3 separate regions of the Homo sapiens genome follow, and all the other regions are linked to region 3. The links come from fine-mapping of genetic effects on gene expression. A gene starts in region 3. Each other region holds a variant in brackets. All regions are shown on one strand. Distances are between the middles of the regions.

Evidence for each region.
Region 1: its variant is fine-mapped to the expression of SLC25A27 in sun-exposed skin (GTEx, PIP 0.90).
Region 2: its variant is fine-mapped to the expression of SLC25A27 in tibial nerve (GTEx, PIP above 0.99). The same link has a PIP of 0.9 or more in esophagus mucosa.

Annotation. Positions count from the first base shown.
Region 1 is chr6:46,741,568-46,744,330 of GRCh38, forward strand. No RefSeq gene overlaps it. Among named protein-coding and RNA genes, the nearest start is that of ANKRD66, 4.0 kb to the right of the region's middle. The variant C/G (reference allele first, on the strand shown) is at 1,720.
Region 2 is chr6:46,629,375-46,632,137 of GRCh38, forward strand. It overlaps CYP39A1 (cytochrome P450 family 39 subfamily A member 1), which reads right to left. Exons shown (of 12, transcript NM_016593.5): 6 at 1,589-1,696. Among named protein-coding and RNA genes, the nearest start is that of CYP39A1, 22 kb to the right of the region's middle. The variant A/C (reference allele first, on the strand shown) is at 1,188.
Region 3 is chr6:46,651,765-46,654,527 of GRCh38, forward strand. SLC25A27 (solute carrier family 25 member 27) reads left to right here and starts at 1,211. Exons shown (of 9, transcript NM_004277.5): 1 at 1,211-1,534. The coding sequence starts at 1,429. CYP39A1 (cytochrome P450 family 39 subfamily A member 1) reads right to left here and starts at 1,054. Exons shown (of 12, transcript NM_016593.5): 1 at 642-1,054. The coding sequence starts at 818. RefSeq lists enhancers at 959-1,008, 1,239-1,368 and silencers at 1,029-1,118, 1,549-1,648.

The DNA of each region.
Region 1 (2,763 bases), 90 kb after region 3:
TGAATTCCTACTTTATTGGTCCAGGTCCTGGCAGGAAGCATGCAACAGGCTTAAACTGGATTATTGGATGAATGTTTAACAAAGTGAATGTGGACAAAGGTGAAAGCAGAGTTTAGGAAACCCAACAAGGCATAGTGCAGTGCCTCTGGGCAAACAACACTGAAGAGCCCTTATCATGCATGGGCCTGCAGGAGCAAGAGGAGAAAGCAGTAGCTGTGACCTGGCAAGACCAACTCTATAGAGAAGGCCACCAGAGAGGAACTGTGACCTTCACAGCAAACCCTTGGCACTCAGGCAGGAAGGAGGCCGAGGGACTAAATATTCCAAACCCATTCTCCATCCATCCTTCAATCTCATGCTGGAAATTGCCCAGGCCCAACTGGAAACCAGTGGCACCAGAGCCCATGGGTGCCAGGTGGGAAAAATGGAGAGTGGATCTGATGAGACAAATGAAGGATGTCCAGCATACCTGCTTATTCCTATATACCAGTCTTCAAGTGCTTCGGTGCCCCTCTTACAGCATTTAACATAGCCTCGATTACATTTTGTTGTGCAATATCTTACCTCCTCAACTAGATTAATAACTACTCAAAGAGAGATGTGATCTTTTTCACATGTGTGATCAGGTGCTCAGGAAATATTTGAAATGTAAAAGTATCCCCCAAAGAGACTCCTTCAAGAAACGTGATTCAGGGACAATCGGTCCACCAGAGAGGCTAGAAAGGATGACATGTCTGGACAAGGGCTCCTTGGTGGGAGGGATATGAGATACCAAGGCAGTGATATAGAACCCTTTTGTAAACCCATGCAACAGTCGAAGTCTACAGAGTGAGGGAGCTACCTAGGCCCACCTTCAGTTTGTGCAGCACACAGGAGAGACTGAGAGGAGAGCCATAGCTGTGTCTTTGAAGCTGGTATCTGCTAGTAAAACAACACCTTAGAGGAAATATGGCCCACTTGGAAATCCTAACTCCACAGAACAAAATTTTACAAGCTTCCTGATGGATTGACACACACTTCTAGTTTGGGCTGATCAGCAGCAATGCTGGAATCCTAGATCCAACACATGCTTTTTCTCCAGGCTCTTCCCACGGGTGGTCCAAGATGTCATCTCAGGTTCTACTCTTTGACTAGGAGGCCCTGTGAAAGCTCCAGCAAAATGGATATAGATAGAAGGGAATGAATAATCCAGAAGCCCAGATGGAACCCAATTCTCACCCTCCTAGTCCCAGATGCAGGGAACTCTAGAACTTGCCTGAGGTATGAGCTTTGGTAGTAGCGCCATCAGGCACCAAGTTTTATCAGCTGTCATCCTCATAACACTCAACAAGAAATACAGAGACCTGCTTTGAGTATGCTTAAGCCCTCTGAGCCTCAGTTTCTTTCTTTTCTTTTTTTTTCAAGAAAGAAGTAAGGAAAGAAAAGAATGGCTACTCCATAGGCAGAGCAGCTGAGACTGTTTCTTTGCCTGCAAATTATCTGTATTTCAGGCTTGGTGTTAGGATTGATGAGATAATATCCATAAAATACTTAGAACAATGCCTGATGCACGAAGGCATCTAACAAATATTCCATTTCCTTCCTGCCATTCCCATTGTCCAAGTCACCATTCCGTCCCTTTACTGTATTGCCTCTTTCATACATATTGAAGTTGAAACTGGGTTATTTCCCAGGGACAGAAGTCTTAACTTCATTAACTTTTGCATGTAAGTTTGACTT[C/G]CACCTCAAGAGGCAATATGTAGCACAGTAGATAAGAACATGGATATTGCAACCAAACTACCAGAACTGTCCCACAGCTAGCTTTGTAAACTTAAGGAAGTAACTTGATTACTACGTGCCTTTGTTTTTGCTTCTGTAAAGTAGGCATAATAAGTGTAACTGCCCCACAGAAATAAATTTGTTAATGTGTTTTAAAGTACTTAGAACAAAGACTATACAGGTTTGTTATTATTATCATCCTCTTTAGAATTGGAAGGAGGTAGGAGAGAATCAAGTCTCAGTGTCCCAAACATGAGTCAGCAGCTCATGGATGGCAGTGCTGCCCAGACCACACCCACTCAACCCTGAACCCTGAACACTGAACCCTGAACTGAACCCTTAACATGCAGTTGCTGTGCATCTATTCTGTATGTTGAACTTAGCTGGGGTGGGGGAGGTGGTAAGAGATGAATGAAAACACAGTAGCAGTGTTACTTTAAATAAATAATTTAATGTCAATGGCTCTCAATATTCTCACCTGTTAAATGAGTTTTGGATTCATTATTTCCAGAGTTTCTTCCTGATCTAAAAATGACTTTGATTCTATGGAAAAAAGGTCTCATGGAAGTCACCTTATCCAGAAACTTTAGTCCCAGTGCTTGAGCCAATGGGACCAAAGATCAATGACTGGCCCATCGATATTTCCCCAGGTGGCCTCTGTGACCTGTTGCAGGATAGGTGAGAGACTGTTGAATGTAGACTTTTGACCTTCATTCAGTCACAAAGGCACACTAAGAGCACTGAGAAACATATATCATACAAACTGAATATCACATTAGCAGACCCTACTACTTGTAGTTAACAAATAATTAATATTTTCATAAGATCAAGATTCATTTTGGCCTTATTTTTATATAGCCCTGTGTATTATGTCAAAATTTTATTTTTTTATTCAAAACATACTACAATATTTTGCACCTTTTTTGTCTCTTCTTCTTCTTCTTCTTCTCCTTCTCCTTCTCCTTCTTCTTCTCCTTCTCCTTCTCCTTCTCCTTCTCCTTCTTC
Region 2 (2,763 bases), 22 kb before region 3:
TTGATGTTTGTTTCTCAATTTTGCTATAGCTTAATCAGTTTCCAAGAATATTATTTAAGGAAAAACCAGAGAAGAATATTATAGGTACATAAAGAAGGGGAAGGGTTTAGACTACTTTTACTTGACCATATCAGATGAAATGTATATTCCACTGGCTAACATACCTTTGAGAAAAGAGGCCAGAATTTCTATCCCTTCTCTTTATGCAGTAAATTTTTCAACAAGTTAAGGGAAACTAGAATATCATGACTGAGAAAGCCTTTAACAACCTAGGCCTTTATAAAAGTAAGGCTAAATAAATAATACTTAAAACATCTTCCTAATTTCTATCTGTTAGAAGAAAAAGGAAGAAAAATGCCCACACATATCATCATGGATAGGTTAAATCCTCCTGTTTAGTAGAAAACAAGTATATTTAAAAAGTTACCCTTTAATTTCAGATAATATAAGTAGCATCTTAGGCTAATGTGAGAACCTCCTGGCCCAGGAAACTGTTGGCACTGAACATGACGTGACAGACAAATCTCATGGCTCTAATCTAATGCAAGACAGATTTTAAAAGAAACAGTTTTTTAGCCGGGCCCAGTAGCTCACGCATGTAATCCCAGCTGCTCAGGAGGCTGAGGCAGGGGAATCGCTTGAACCCGGGAAGCAGAGGTTGCAGTGAGCCGAGATCACGCCATTGCACTCCAGCCTGGGTGATAGAATGAGACACCATCTCAAAAAAACAAAACAAAACAAAACAACAACAACAACAAAAAAACCCACAAAAAACAGTTTTTTAAGTCTTGCCTCTCTTTAGAAGTGTTGAAAGTTCCAATTTCACCAGCACCATTCATGCGGAAGCTTGTAGGACCATAATGCTAAGCAATGCAAACAGGAATGGCACACAGAAGGAGAATGGGTACAAATGGAGAGAAAGAGCTAATATTCATTGATACCAGCTAGGCTTATCTTATTAAATCCTCATAACAACTTTGTAGAGAAATGAGAATTACCATTTATTGAGCACCCAAGTTCTAAGACCACAGTGGGAGGTTCACATACATTATCCCTTTTTTTACCCTTATTAGGTAAAATAGTACATTATCTCTTATTAGGAAATGGAGGCACAGAAAATTTAAATTACCACCATGACAGTCTACAACTACAAATTGGGATGTCTGGATCCAAGCCCAAGTTACCTG[A/C]AACTATCCATTTACTTACTCTTTCCAATAAAAGCATGTGGCCAATCCCTATTCATCTTTTCAATACCAATACTGAGCACATTGGTAGACATACAAAAAGTGTTCCATAAACAGATGTTGTCTACAACTGGCCCCAAAGGGCAAGCTTTTCCCTCATCCTGTTACACACTGCCTTTCAGAGGACAGAATTTGCTTGAGATCTGTTTCGTCTCCTTTGTAACCTAATCAGATTTCATTAGGCATTCAGTTTTGGTTTTTATCTCACAACCAAATCCACTGTAGTTTTTTTCTTTTCCATAATGAGTGATGAGTGGAAAAAAGAATGGAAGACAGAAATGAAGGAAAAAAAGATGAAAGGACAGTGGAGAGCAACGTAACTCATACTTTACTAATATACTTACAGGAACAGCATTAGACAGAGAAGCCCAAAGCAGTAAGAGCCCATAATTGGGTGAGTTTTCCTTACTTGTTTCCGTCTCTACAATATCCAGCGTAGCTTGCAATAATGTCTGTTTAAAAGAAATAAACATTGCCAAACCATGGCTATGTGACAAATATCGATGTTAATAAACAAGAGATCATGCCTTTTTCTTTAATATGAAAGATATCATTTCTGCCATTCCCAGGTTTTGCAGTTTGAGGCATGTGAAGGGATTTATGTCCTTACTGTAGTATAGTAATTAGGAGTAGGGATTCTGGAGCTTGACCGCCTCACTGCATTTGTTCAAATCCTGGCTCAGCTATTTAAGAGCTGGATGACCTTGAACAAGCTACTTTAATCTCTCTGTGCCTCTGTGTCCTCATCCATAAAATGTTCATAATATGGTACCTACCTCGTAGGATTGTTGTGAGAATTAAATGAGTTAGTACCTAAAAAGTGCTTAAAATAAAACCTTTCAGAGGGTAAAATGCACTTTGGATCTCTACTTTACCAAACTGAATTGGCAAATTGTGTGTTATTATCTCTGCCCTCCACACTGCTCTGGAATCCCTGTCTTATAAACCTCTGCTCTTAGCAAAATGCAAGCAATAGAGAAACACACATCTCTGGTGCATTCAGGAGAAAACTACACCCCCATCCACCATACAGATTCTCAGCCCATTCACCATGGGAGACAGAACTGCCAAGCCAGAATATTACAAATACCACAATACTCTAAAACCATACAGAGAACGGACATTTGACTTGAACAGTGACAGCTCAGGGCAGGGCCCCATCCAAGGCTACCCATCTCAAGACATGTTGTTCTCAAGTCACCAAACAAATCCCACTAAAGTATTTTCTTCATCGGGCGGTTTCCCCAGATTTGTCTTTGCCAGTGACGGCTCTCCATCATGGGAAAAAATTCAGACACTGTAACATTTTCATTAAGTTACTCATCTACTTTTAATCTTAAATAACTTATGTCTAGGTGATAGAAATAATGGGAGCTAATATCAACTCACTGCTTGCTAAGGGCAAGTACTGTTTTAAGTGTATTGCAAGTATTTAACCCATTTCACTCCTCACTATAACTCCAAGATGCAGATACTACTATCTTTTTTTTTTATTTTTAAGAAAAGATGTTTACTTGAG
Region 3 (2,763 bases):
ATCAAATACCATAAAATATTTGTGACTGGAAATTGAATAAAACTTAAAAGACATTAATAAAGGTCTGTTCCTTAAAGTGCTCAGACATTTAAAAGATACTTTCAAGACAAAAACATCTACTACAAGGAGGATTACTAGTCTCTTCAGGCCGTAGTGAAAATGGAGTACATCATCATCAAATAACAACGTCAGCTAAAAATACAGAGCCTGTTTATTGTGTACGGACCAACTGTGCAAGCAATTTGTACAATACTTTGGTGTTAACTCCAATTTGGATACGAATTACTCATTTTCACAAACTTAAATTGGATTACACTTTATCTTTCCCAATTACTGAAAACATTTACTTAACACATACACATTTGGAACTTAACTTCGATGAAGTAAAAATACGAAAAGTTAATCTCTACTTCCAAAAATGTCGATGCACGCTGCAATTGTATTTCATTTCTTTCGCAAAATTTTGCACAGGATATTGTTGTTAATTGTTAGTAGAGGAATTCAGAAATGACTAGATCCTTTAGTTGAGGCAAGCAGGTATGTTCCCCGTGTTCTAGCCCTGCACTTAAGAGTCAATGAAAGAAAGTTTAAAAAAGAAAGCATTGTCTCCTCTGGAGACCCCGTCTGCCACGACCACATACCTTGATTCTTGCTTTCTCTATAAATTCTAGAGGGGCTTTCCCAAACTCAAATCCAACTCCAATCCAAGGAATCCAGCCCTTGATGCACGGGGGTCTACGCAAATTCTTCCGCTGAAGGAGTAAGAACAGAGCAAGGCAACCCAGGATTATAATCACTGTTGGGGAAATTAGTTCCATGTTTTTGTCCAGCACCTTCCAGAAGCAGAAAAGTGTGAAACAGTCCTGCCGTCCCTTGCTTCTTTTCTGTGGGCTACGGAACCTGTCGGGACTCCCAACCTTTCTGCTGCAACTTTTGCAGCTCTCCTTCGTAACTGTAGCTTCCTTCCTCTGTCCCAGTTTTCAGGTGATTTTTCCATTGTCGCTCCCTCCCACCTCCACTTCTCTTTGAATCTCAGCCAGCGCGGAAAAAATGCAAGGAGGGGCAGGGCCGGGCTAGGACTGACGGGCGAGAACCAGCCGCGTTGCCATGGAGGCCGGGGGCGGAGCCGCAGAGGGACCCGCGGCCGGCCAATCAGAGACGTAGCGGAGCCCGGCGGACTACATTGCCCAGTAACCTCCTGGGCTCCGCTGTGTTTTTCTATTCTGGGGTGTAAGGGGCAGCTGGACCACTCCAGCTGGGACTGCTAGGAAGGTTGCGGGTCCACCCGGCCGAGCCGAACGAGGGAAATGGTCCTCACCCGGCCACTCGCCGGTTGAAAAGGGGCCGCCCTGGCAGGGAAGCGGCCGCCGCGGCGCGGTGCAGCGCAGCGGCGAGAAGGAGTGCGTTATCGTCTTGCGCTACTGCTGAATGTCCGTCCCGGAGGAGGAGGAGAGGCTTTTGCCGCTGACCCAGAGATGGCCCCGAGCGAGCAAATTCCTACTGTCCGGCTGCGCGGCTACCGTGGCCGAGCTAGGTACCCGGCTGCCCACGCCTGGGCCTCCCGGGCCAGTGGCACGCGCCGCGCTGGGGGAGGGTGCGCGGGCGGCTTCGCGCCCGGCAGTGCGCATCGGAGAGGTCGCCCCTTCCATGCCCGCCTGGCAGAGGTGGCGGTGGAGGCCAGGCCCGCGGTGGGAGGAGGAGGGATTGAGGTCTCCACGGCCTTTTCCTTCTAATCTCTTCTAATGCTTCCCTTAGGCATGTGCTGTGGTGCTTGAATGTTGTACTTTAAGAAGCTTCGCGAGCTGTCATTCCTCTGTAGGAATCATTTTCCTTTTCATGAGGATGACCTTTTTAAAAACGTAATCTGTTTTCCATCCTTACTGAGATCATCTCTGTGGTTTATAGTCTTACACAGCCACACTGTCATTATCTTGTGGGTCCAAGTTGTGGACCTACCTTGTGGGACTTCCGTTATTAACCTGCCACTCACAGAGCATCGACTACTTGACCTCTTTGAGTGTAATTCATCTATACTGTTTACCTTGCAGGATTCTGAGAAGTCAATAATATATGATTGCTAAACCCAAGGCAGGACACCCATTAGTTGCGACATTTTTATAATTCCTACAATACCAGGGACTGTGGATATATATTTGAAAAGACCCAGTTCTGACCTTCTTACAGGCTGCTGGGGAGACAGAGAAAGACAATTATAATGTGCTACTTGTTATAATGAAGATATTATTAGGTGTCATAAAAGCATAGAAGAGCAGTTACATCTGCCTACATGAGTAAGAAAAAACTTTAAGAGGCCATCTAGAGTGGAATGATGATGCCCTTGAATGAGCAAGTAGCGTTTATTCCAAGGATTTTGTGAGTAGTATACTCATGTGTTTCCTGTGAAGCCTTAACTGTGTATTTTAAGATTACCCTTACATTTTCTTGCCTGTTACAAAAAAATAAAAAGAACAGTTCTGATGCGTTATCATTTGTAAATGTTAGTTGGTCCTATTTTAAGAGTTTATTTTTTAATTCTAGCATAGCCAGCCATGATCAGTTGTTTCGTGCTCTTCCATTTTTGCCTTTTAGCCCCTCTATTTTTTAATGTCTCTCCTTTCGAAAATGATGGAGAATTTTTACTTTTCATTGTTTTTACTGAAATAAAATTCATCAGCTTAAAAAGATCTAAAAGCAGATTGCTGAATGATATTTCCAGGTTTTATTTTTAATTGATGTGTCCCCCTCTGACTCAATGGCTTTTAT